2 separate regions of the Homo sapiens genome follow, and region 2 is linked to region 1. Evidence: fine-mapped expression QTL. A gene starts in region 1. The other region holds a variant in brackets. All regions are shown on one strand. Distances are from middle to middle.

Region 1 (5,526 bases):
CATGTGTATACTGGAAAATAGCGGCCCCTCGAAGGCCTGGTGCATGTTTTAGTGTGGCCCCTCTTCCATTCCAAGAGGATATTAAGCTCTCTGCTGCACCCTCCATCTGGCCTCATTTGTCTACACAGGAATTTCCTCAGTGTTAAGAACACAAATGTTCCAGTCATTCCTAAGATATTTGTGAAATTTGAAAGAAAAATCCAGTATTTAAACAATAGGGGTAACAAGCTACTGGATTTTAACAAGTAGAAAACTTCCTTTTGCAACAGTTGTTACTTTGCAGTCAAGGAGCTGTAGTCCCTAAAAAAAAAAGTGATCAAGGCTTAGCAAAAGTCTGAGGGAAAAATATAAGACAGAAGAAAAATAAAGACAAATCCTTCTCCTACAAAATGTAACAGAAATATCACCTTGCGACAGAGTCTCACTCTGTCGCCCAGGCTGGAGTGCAGCATGCGATTTCGGCTCACTGCAAGCTCTGCCTCCCAGGTTCACGCCATTCTCCTCCCTCAGCCTCCCGATTAGCTGCGACTACAGGCACTACTAAAATTAGCCGGGTGTGGTGGTGCACACCTGTAATCCCAGCTACTCAGGAGGCTGAGGCACGAGAATTGCTTGAACCGGGAGGCGGAGGTTGCAGTGAACCGAGATTGCACCACTGCACTCCAGCTTGGGCCACAGAGTGAGACCCTGTCTCAAAAAAAAAAAAAAAAAAGTCTACTACATTTATTCATTTATTTTATGGCCCTTTTCAGAAATCGTGTGCTGGCTGGCCCCTGCTGGGGTACAAAGCTGCAGAGGCAGAGGTATAGAGGAGGGTGAGTTCTGAATCTGCCTTGGTAGAGTGACATTATTGGAGGATCCCTTAGTGCTTTGACAAGAAGCAATTTGGCTATGGGTTGTGTTTTATAGTAGAGCTAAGTCGCTTATCTGGAAACAGTGATGTTTGACATGGAGAAAGACTTATGTTATCATTATTTTGGAAATCACAAGTGCTTCTTGCTGATTGATTTATTTTCTCCCCACCTCCCAAAGGAATTTGACCAGTTTGATTAAATTTCATTTATGTCAAGTGTACAAAATGTGTTGTAAGAGCTGTTTGTGTCAGAGACAGTAAACAAACCCCTTTAATCTTTTTTCTTGCGAGAGCAGGAAGTCACCACTTGCCAATGAGAAATTTAAAACAAATCCCACAAAGTTTTGAGTTTAGTTCAGCACGTGAAATAGTTGAGGTCTTGGGATCTTGTAATCTTGGCAACTCCCATTTGCTGTCCCTGGTGAGAACACTTGTGTACCGTTGCTTACTTTCCGGTTCACTAAGAGGGTCGCACCTTGCCCTCTTAATCCTAGAGTCAAATCTGATTACAAACATTTTCCTCTCGGGAATCCCGCTTGTAAGGAAGATCACTGTGCTCTCTGTTAAATAAAACAGCTCCATTTAGTTGCCTTATTCGTTCTCAGGCTTACTGTATTTCATCAGCCTAAAGACTGTGTTTGACATCAATTATTAGAGACCATTTGTTTTTACAATGGAAAAAGAAATAAAAGTGCAGATGTTGAACCTCAAAATCCATACTTCTCAGAGCTATTTTCATTCCAGAAAGTAGGAATGTGCTGGGGGGTTCTTGTGTGGGGAGAGGGGAGGTGAATGAATACAAAAATAGACATATCACTGTGACTAAGTAAAATATTTTGTGTTGTTTTTTCTATTAATTTCAAAATTAGAGAAAACTTTAGAACAGAAAAAAATAAGTGAATTATGGGAAAGTGAAAACTGCAGGACACATTCCAGTTTAGTTAAAATAATAGCTCCTGTCAAATCAAAAAAAAAATGATGAAAATTTCAGCTTTGTTATCAGAAAAGTAGTATGGTTAAAGATGGGCAGTCTTTGCACTTAAGGAGTCTCCTTAAACACAAGTTCCCATTCCCAGACCTCATAGGTGAATGTTGATAGCAGAGTTGGACCCTAGCAGCAACCAACTTTACAAATGTGGGCATTTCTGGACGGGCGCGGTGGCTCACGCCTGTAATCACAGCACTTTGGGAGGCCGAGGCAGGTGGATCACGAGGTCAGGAGTTCAAGACCAGCCTGGCCAAGATGGTCAAACTCTGTCTCTACTAAAAATACAAAAAATAGCCAGGGCTGGTGGCAGGTGCCTGTAATCCCAGCTACTCCGGAGGCTGAGGGAGAGAACTGCTTGAACCTGGGAGGCGGAGGCTGCAGTGAGCCGAGATCGCGCCACTGCACTCCAGCCTGGGCAACAGAGCGAGACTACATCTGAAAAAAAAAAAAAAAGAAGAAGTGGGCATTTCTTAATGGTCCAATCTCTTCCTTTAACTGTGCAGAGGAAGCCAAGCCCCCACTGAGAGGTGACAACATGCTGGTAGGCCTCGCAGCCGTCACTCACTCTCGGCTCCTCTGCCTGGGCTCCCACTTTAACGGCACTTGAGGAGCCCTTCAGCCCGCCGCTGCACTGTGGGAGCCCCTTCCTGGGCTGGCCAAAGCCAGAGCCGGCTCCCTCAGCTTGCGGGGAGGTGTGGAGGGAGAGACGCGGGCGGGAACCGGGGCTGCACGCCGCGCTTGCGCGCCAGTGCGAGTTCCGGGTGGGCGTGGGCTCGGCGGGCCCCGCACTCCAAGCAGCCAGCCCGCCCCGCCGGCCACGGGCAGTGAGGGGCTTAGCACCTGGGCCAGCAGCTGTTAGTGCTCGACTTCTCGCGGGGCCTTAGCTGCCTCCGTGCGGGGCATGGCTCGGGACCTGCAGCCCGCCATACCTGAGCCTCCTCCCCCGCGTCATGGGCTCCTGCGCGGCCTGAGCCTCCCCCACGAGTGCCGCCCCCTGCTCCACAGGACCCAGTCCCATCGACCACCCAACGGCTGAGGAGTGCAGGCGCACTGCACAGGACTGGCAGGCAGCTCCACCTGCGGCCCTGGTGCGGGATCCACTGGGTGAAGCCAGCTGGGCTTCTGAGTCTGGAAGGGACTTGGAGAACCTTTATGTTTAACTAAGGGATTGTAAATACACCAATGGGCACTCTGTATCTAGCTCAAGGTTTGTAAACACACCAATCAGCACCCTGTGTCTAGCTCAGGGTTTGTGAATGCACCAATCGACGCTCTGTATCTAGCTACTCTGGTGGGGACTTGGAGAACCTTTGTGTCCACACTCTGTATCTAGCTAATCTAGTGGGGACGTGGAGAACTTTTGTGTCCAGCTCCAGGATTGTAAACGCACCCATCAGCACCCTGTCAAAACGGACCAATCAGCTCTCTGTAAAACAGACCAATCGGCTCTCTGTAAAATGGACCAATCAGCAGGATGTGGGTGGGGCCAGATAAGAGAATAAAAGCAGGCTGCCCCAGGTAGCAGTAGCAACTTGCTGGAGTCGCCTTCTGTGCTGTGGAAGTTTTGTTGTTTTGCTTGTTTGCAATAACCGTTGCTGCTGCTTACTGTTTGGGTCCGCACTGCCTTTATGAGCTGTAACGCTCACCGTGAAGGTCTGCAGCTTCGTTCTTAAAGCCAGCCACATCACGGACCCACCGGGAGAAACGAATAACTCCAAACACGCCACCTTAAGAGCCGTAGCACTCATGATGAAGGTCCGTAGCTTCACTCCTGAAGTCAGCGAGATCACGAATCTGCCAGAAGGAAGAAACTCCGAACACATGCGAGCATCAGAAGAAACAAACTTGGGACACGCTGCCTTTAAAAACTGTAACACTCACCGCCAGGGTCCGCGGCTTCGTTCTTGAAGTCAGTGAGACCAAGAATCCGCCGATTCTGGACACACCATGACGGAACTAGGTAAGTGATAGGAGCTAGGAGAGCTGCTCACCAGAGGAGGTAGAGACCAAGTCTACAAGTGCATCCGGGGTATATTGAGAAACCGGGTAACTTCTGTGAAATGAGGCAAAGTACAAAAATCCTCTGCATCCCACTCATGGCAAGGTGGGCCCAGCTTCTCAGGACAGGGAGTGGGAGACTAGTGGGAGCAAATGGCGCTTCCCACCTGTTGGCAGTGAAGAGGCCTGCAGCCCACACCAGGAGCTAATTAAAGGGAATTGTTCCTGGTTCAGAATCCCAGAAAGCCACCAAGGGGGGTCTAATCCGCGGGGGTGATCCCAATTAAAAGGGAGCGCTTTATATCAGGAGGACAATTCAGCAGATGGAGCCACGTGGTCCTGCTGTCACACTGAGCTCTCTAGAGGCCGCAGGGTGCTTGAGAGGCTCTGCCTGCTTCCCTGAAGGGAGCTTCTCCTCCCCAGACCTAGATGGGGACAGAGAATCATGGGTCTTCTTCCTCTTAATATACAGCTTCAGGAAAAAAGTATTTTCAGTTTAAAAAAAAGTTTAAGAATATTTTTAGAGACAGGGTCTCACTCTGTCACCCAGGGTGGAGTGCAGAGGTGCAGTTACGACTGACGGCTCAAGTGATCCTCCCGCTTCAGCCTCCCTGAGAAGCCAGGACTATGGGCATATACCACGTTTTGAAAAAAATAATTGATGCAGTCTTGCCACGTTGCCCAGGTTGATCTTGAACTCCTGGCCTCAGGCTATCCTCCTACCTTGGCCTCTCAAAATGCTGAAATTAAAGGCGTGAGCCAGTGCACCTGGCCAAAAGTTTGTTTTGTTTTTAAATAGAATTCTCCGAAAGATCAAGATATTGGAAAACAGCTTTTTCGATAGAGGAAATAGCCTCAAATGTTAGCCTTTTTCAGTTATTCTGACACATTAAAAAGAGGACTGTCTGCAGAGCCAGGTGGCATGCCACGGCTGTGGCTCACTGTCAGTGGCATGTTTAAGGAGTCCAGCACAGTGTCAAGAAAGCACTTTTCGCAGGTAGAACGCAGGGTGGTGAGCACAGAGCTAGCAAGCTTGCACAGACGCTAGCTAGGTGGCAAGCCTCTGTTCCTCAGGGCTGATGAAGCTGGGGACAGTGCCTGGGGCACAGAAAGAATCCATACAGGATCCGGTGCTGCGATCCTCGTTTCTCAAAACAGGAAACCTGAGCACAGAGGTTAACTTCCCTGAGGACCCACAGCTCCTAGGCAGCGGTGCTTGCAATCAATATTTTAAAGGCAGGCGCCATAAGATTCATCTATGGTTTTCTCTCTTTTTTTTCTGCTCACATCTCACATATTTTGTGGAATTAGTTTTCAGAGCAATCAAATTTTACCAAATCATAATGGCCAAACACAATGAGGGGCTCTGGCAGGGATTACTAAAGAGGAAAAAATAAGATCTAAGTAAACGACTTGTAGGGTAGCCCACAGTTCCTAGGACAGTACCTCTTTGAGCACCATGTGGTGTTCCGTCCCAGACATCCTTCTGTCCCAGGCAAACCGGGACAGCTGGTAGCCAAACCCTTAGCTCACCTTTGAACCATCCTGAACAACAAAGTGACCCAGACTCAAATGTCCAGAAAGTCCCTGCTGGCGCTCCAACCCGCTGTCCTGAGCTGGATCGTTCTGCTTTCAAGGGGCATTGCTTTATCACCCTCCCCTAGATCCTTGGCCTTTCGGGGCCCAG
Region 2 (5,000 bases), 30 kb after region 1:
AAGTGTCACTTTCATCCTGTCAGATCAAGGGCACACAGTATCAGTGTGACAGCACTGTCCATGATGACCTTGATCTTACTTGGTGGAGGGAGTGTTTGTCAGGCCTCTCTACCATACAGTTAATTTTTTTTTTTTTCCTTTTCCAGATGGAGTCTCTCTGTGTCACTGAGGCTAGTGTGCAGTGGGGGTGATCTTGGCTCAGTGCAAGCTCTGCCCCCCAGGTTCGAGCAATTCTCCTGGCTCAGCCTCCTGAACAGCTGGGACTACAGGCACATGCCACCACGCCTGGCTAATTTTTGTATTTTTAGTAGCGACGGGGTTTCACTCTTTTGGCCAGGCTGGTCTCAAACTCCTGACCTCAGGTGATCCGTCCACCTCGGCCTCCCAAAGTGCTGGGATTACAGGCGTGAGCCACTGCACCTGGCCACCATACAGTTACTTTTTGTCCCCACTTCTATCCTGTCCTCTTTGGAAGGAAGTAACTCTGCGCAGCCCACACTCGAGTGGGGGAGTTCCTCTCTGCTTCAGGGTAGAGGAGTTACATCGGTTACTGGGAGTGCAAGTGCATGAGAGAGCTGAGTCCTCCTCCTGGACCCACTTACTTATTTGTTTACTTATGTATGTAGTCATTTCATTAGATCAGGATGGACTCATGAATATTTATTTCTCATATTTTGGCCTATGGCTTGTTTCCTTTTGAAAGTCTGTCTCCTCCTGAAACCTTTTCCTCCCCCCTCCTCCCTTTACTATCCTAGGACAATGCCTCCCTGATCGTTCAGGTTTCTCTGCTCCAAGGGAAATGGCACGAGTCCACACTTTGTTTTTATGGCTGTGTGTTTAGCTGTATTAAAAGTTAGACTAAGTTGGACACTTTTCATTTATTTATTCTTTATTTTCATAAGTTTTTGGGGAACAGGTGGTATTTGGTCACATGAGTAAGTTCTTTAGTGGTGATTTGTGAGATTTTGGTGCAGCATCACCCAAGCAGTATACATGAACCCAATTTGTAGTCTTTCATCCCTCACCTGCTTCCCACCCTTTCCCATCGAGTCCCCAGTGTCCATTGTATCATTCTTATGCCTTTGCATCCTCATAGCTTAGCTCCCACTTATGAGTGAGGACATATGGTGTTTGGTTTTCCATTCCTGAGTTACTTCACTTAGAATAATAGTCTCCGAGGCAGGCAGATCACAAGGTCAGGAGTTCGAGACCAGCCTGGTCAATATGGTAAAACCCCATCTCTACTAAAAATACAAAAATTAGCCGGGTGTGGTGGCACTCGCCTGTAGTCCCAGCTACTGTGGTGGCTGAGGCAGAAGAATCGCTTGAACCCGGGAGGCAGAGTTGCGGTGAGCCAAGATTGTGCCATGGCACGCCAGCCTGGGTGACAGAGTGAGACTCTGTCTCCAAAAAAAAAAAAAAAAAAAAAAAAAAAAAAAAAAGAATAGTCTCCAATCCCATCCAGGTTGCTATAAATGCCATTAATACATTTCTTTTTATGGCTGAGTAGTATTCCATCCTATCTATATACCGCAGTTTCTTTATCCACTCATTGATTGATGGGAATTTGGGCTGGTTTCACATTTCTGCAATTGCAAATTGTTGGGCACTTATTAAATAACCACACTACTTATATATAGAAGTCTGTGCTGTGTTGCTATGTGCATGTCCTCCTGTTCTTGTACTCATCGCCTACCATATTTTATTGATGCAAAGAGCCAGGTGTTTTTTGGTTTTTTTTTTGTTTTAATTTTGGCATCCTGAAATCAGATGAATCTCACAGGCAGCTGCATCTTATGCTTTGTCATAGTTGAGCAGTACTTTTACTGTCTTGCTGGTTCGTACAGTAATGCTCGATGTTCCATCTCTGGGACTTAGATTTGATGAAATCCATCACATCCTTCCTGGGTTACGCACTCTGTCAGCATGGGAAACAGTCTGACCTGTTTATCTTGTTTCACAGAATCCAGACCAGAATCTTGAGGGCATTGGGGCTATATTTGTGCTGCCATAAATGTAATAAAAATATATATATATATATATCCTGTAGCCAGGCGCGGCGGCTCACACCTGTAATCCCGGCAGTTTGGGAGGCCAAGGTGGGCGGATCACGAGGTCAAGAGATCGAGACCATCCTGGCCAACATGGTAAAACCCCATCTCTACTAAAAACACAAAAATTAACTGGGCGTGATGGCG[C/T]GTGCCTGTAGTCCCAGCTACTCGGGAGGCTGAGGCAGGAGAATTGCTTGAACCCGGGAGGCGGAGGTTGCGGTGAGCCGAGATCATGCCACCGCACTCCAGCCTGGTGACAGAGCAAGACTGTGCCTCAAAAAAAAAAAAAAAAAAAAAATATATATATATATATATATACACAGTCTAATGCTAGAGAAAAAGACACAAATAAGTGGGGCCCTGGAAATCAGGCAGGTTACTTAGGGCAGCAGAATGTCTAATTTGGTCCAGGATTCAGAAGATAAGTCTTAGTTCTTTTCCGTTCTACACAGTTTTTTTTGGGGAAAAAACAAAAAAGGGAAGTCTACTGGGCAAACCTTTTCTCATCTCCATCCTCACATCCACTTCCATGGTACAAATCTTGAAAAATGTCAGCATTACATTACAGATGCCAAATCTGGGATTCCAAAATCCAGTAGGCCTGCCTGGGCCTGCAGGCTGTGAGCCAGTTTGAGATGCCATTAATTAGGTCCCTGGACTCTACACTGACATCTGTAATCACAGATGATTACTCCATACCCCAGACCAGCCTTGGGAAGTTGCACCTCTCAGGGGTGCCCCGACTCTCCCAGTTTCGGGTTCCACTCTGGGCCCTAGTGCTCACACACAGCGCCTTCTCTTTCATCAGGGAAGCATGTGTGCTGCTGTGTTTCCTCTCTTGCAGGCATTTGCAAAATTATCTAGACAGGGACTAATGAACCGAAAAGATCTCTGGAGGTGAAATTTCAGGCACTGGGTCCCCAAGAGATGGGGAAATGGTTGGGGAGCCACAAGATGCCTTTTGGGCAGCAGCCCTCAGCCAACAGCCTGCTGGGCTCACCCTATTTTTTGCCCACTTGTAAGACTATTCCTGACCTTTACCTCCCTTGAGAGCTGTGTTCTAGAGCTCACAATGTGGAGTCAGAATGTCGTGTAGCAATTAGGTATTAAGCATTCAATGAACCATGGTCAATAAATAAGACATAATAGATGTAAACATTCATGCTCCTAATAACAGTGCTTGTAAAATACGTGCAGCAAAAACTAATAGAACTTTAAGGAGAATAGATAAATTCACAGTTAATAGTCAACGATTTCAGTACCCCTCTCAATAACGGACAGAACACATAGACCAAAAAGGATACAGCAGACTTTAACAACACTACCAACCTACCAGACCTCATTGACATTTGTAGAACACTCCACCCAGCATGGAACACACTCTCATATGTGCATATGCAGTGTTTGCCAAGACAGAGACTATACCCTGGGCCATAAAACCAGTCTGAATAAATTCAAAAGGATTCAGGTCACATAAAGTGTGTTCTCTGGCCACAGTGGATTTTAATTAGAAATCAATAACAGACATCTGGAAATTTCCTAAATTTTGGAAACCAAACAAGATACTTCTAAATAAGCCAGAGATGAAAGGAGACATAAAAAGGAAATTAGCAAGCATTTTGAAATGAATGAAAATTAAAACATATCAGAGGGAAATTTATGGCACTAAACAATATTATAGCAGAAGAAAGTTCTCAAATCAGTGACTTTGATTTCTATCTTAAGAAACTAACAGAACAAATTAAACTAAGCAGAAGAAAGGTAATAGTAAAGATGAAAGCAGAAATCAATGAAGTAGCAGAAATATAACAATAGAAATCAAACCAAAACCCAAAAGTTAATATTTTGAGAAAATTAATAAAATTGATAAACCTTCATTTAGATTGATCAAGAAAAAAAATAAAAGACCATTTCTATTAACTTTTAAATATATTTACCATGGCCTGGCCTCCAGGCCTGGTTCCATACTCAAACTACTCTTATCAAAGTCACTACAGACTTGTTTTTTTTTTTTTTTTTTTGCCATTTTACTTGACCTCTCTAGGGTCCTAATAATCATTATGGTGGATACAGTATTGTTGTACCCATTATACAGGTGAGGAGCATGAGGCCCAAGTTGACCAGGCCCTCCTTGTTTCTCCTCTTGTTAACTTGAAAGGTTGCTGTGATAATTCAGTGAAATAAAATAATAATCTGTAAAAATGTATTATCTCCACTAAAATTTTCATGTCTTTACTCATGTCTCTGAGATGCAGCAAGTAAACATAATCTACTCATGAGCTTCCCTTACCAAGACCATGCCCTCCTCCAGCCAGCTCACCGTGCTCAGGCCTCAGCCACCAGAAAATTCTGGAGTGGCCACTGCCCCTCCTTGCCTCTTCTGTTCCTAGGAAAACATCTATGTTTTGATCTGGGTTTTTGCAATACAGCATTTATATGGGAATAATTGCCATCCATAATGATTTCTCTTCAGGACACCTCAAGTCCTGAGACATTTTCAGCAAACCAGCAGCTTAAATACTGTTAGGCTTCAGATTTTATTGTTGTGATATGAGAAAATGACTTTTAGATTGTGATTCCATAGAACTCTAGAAGGCTTTCAGATATGGAAAAGAGTATGCTTAGTTAAAATCCCAACTTAATTATTATCCCTGAGGGATGTTAGCCTGAGCTAAATGATTTACTACGGATTTAGTCTTCGTTCAGAGCAAACTTTTTAGTCAGGTTAAAAAATGTTGGTGATGGTGAAAGCCATAATTTTCTTAAAATTATGGTAAAATATGTATAACATTGATGTATAACATTAAATTTACCATTTTAACCCTTTAAAGTGTACAAGTAAGTGGCATTAAGTACATTCACATTGTTGTACAACTATCATTACTATCGTGTCTAGAACTTTCCATTGTCCCACACTAACACTCTGTGTTCATTAACAATAACCCTCCA

Evidence for each region. PIP is the estimated chance that this variant, and not a neighbour inherited with it, causes the effect. A credible set is the group of variants that fine-mapping cannot tell apart.
Region 2: its variant is the best candidate, but not a certain one, in a credible set for the expression of PGPEP1L in left ventricle (GTEx, PIP 0.62).

The regions. Positions count from the first base shown.
Region 1 is chr15:99,005,634-99,011,159 of GRCh38, reverse strand. PGPEP1L (pyroglutamyl-peptidase I like) reads left to right here and starts at 3,368. Exons shown (of 5, transcript NM_001167902.2): 1 at 3,368-3,801; 2 at 5,504-5,526.
Region 2 is chr15:98,976,076-98,981,075 of GRCh38, reverse strand. All of the region lies in intron 2 of PGPEP1L (pyroglutamyl-peptidase I like), which reads left to right. Among named protein-coding and RNA genes, the nearest start is that of PGPEP1L, 29 kb to the left of the region's middle. The variant C/T (reference allele first, on the strand shown) is at 2,199.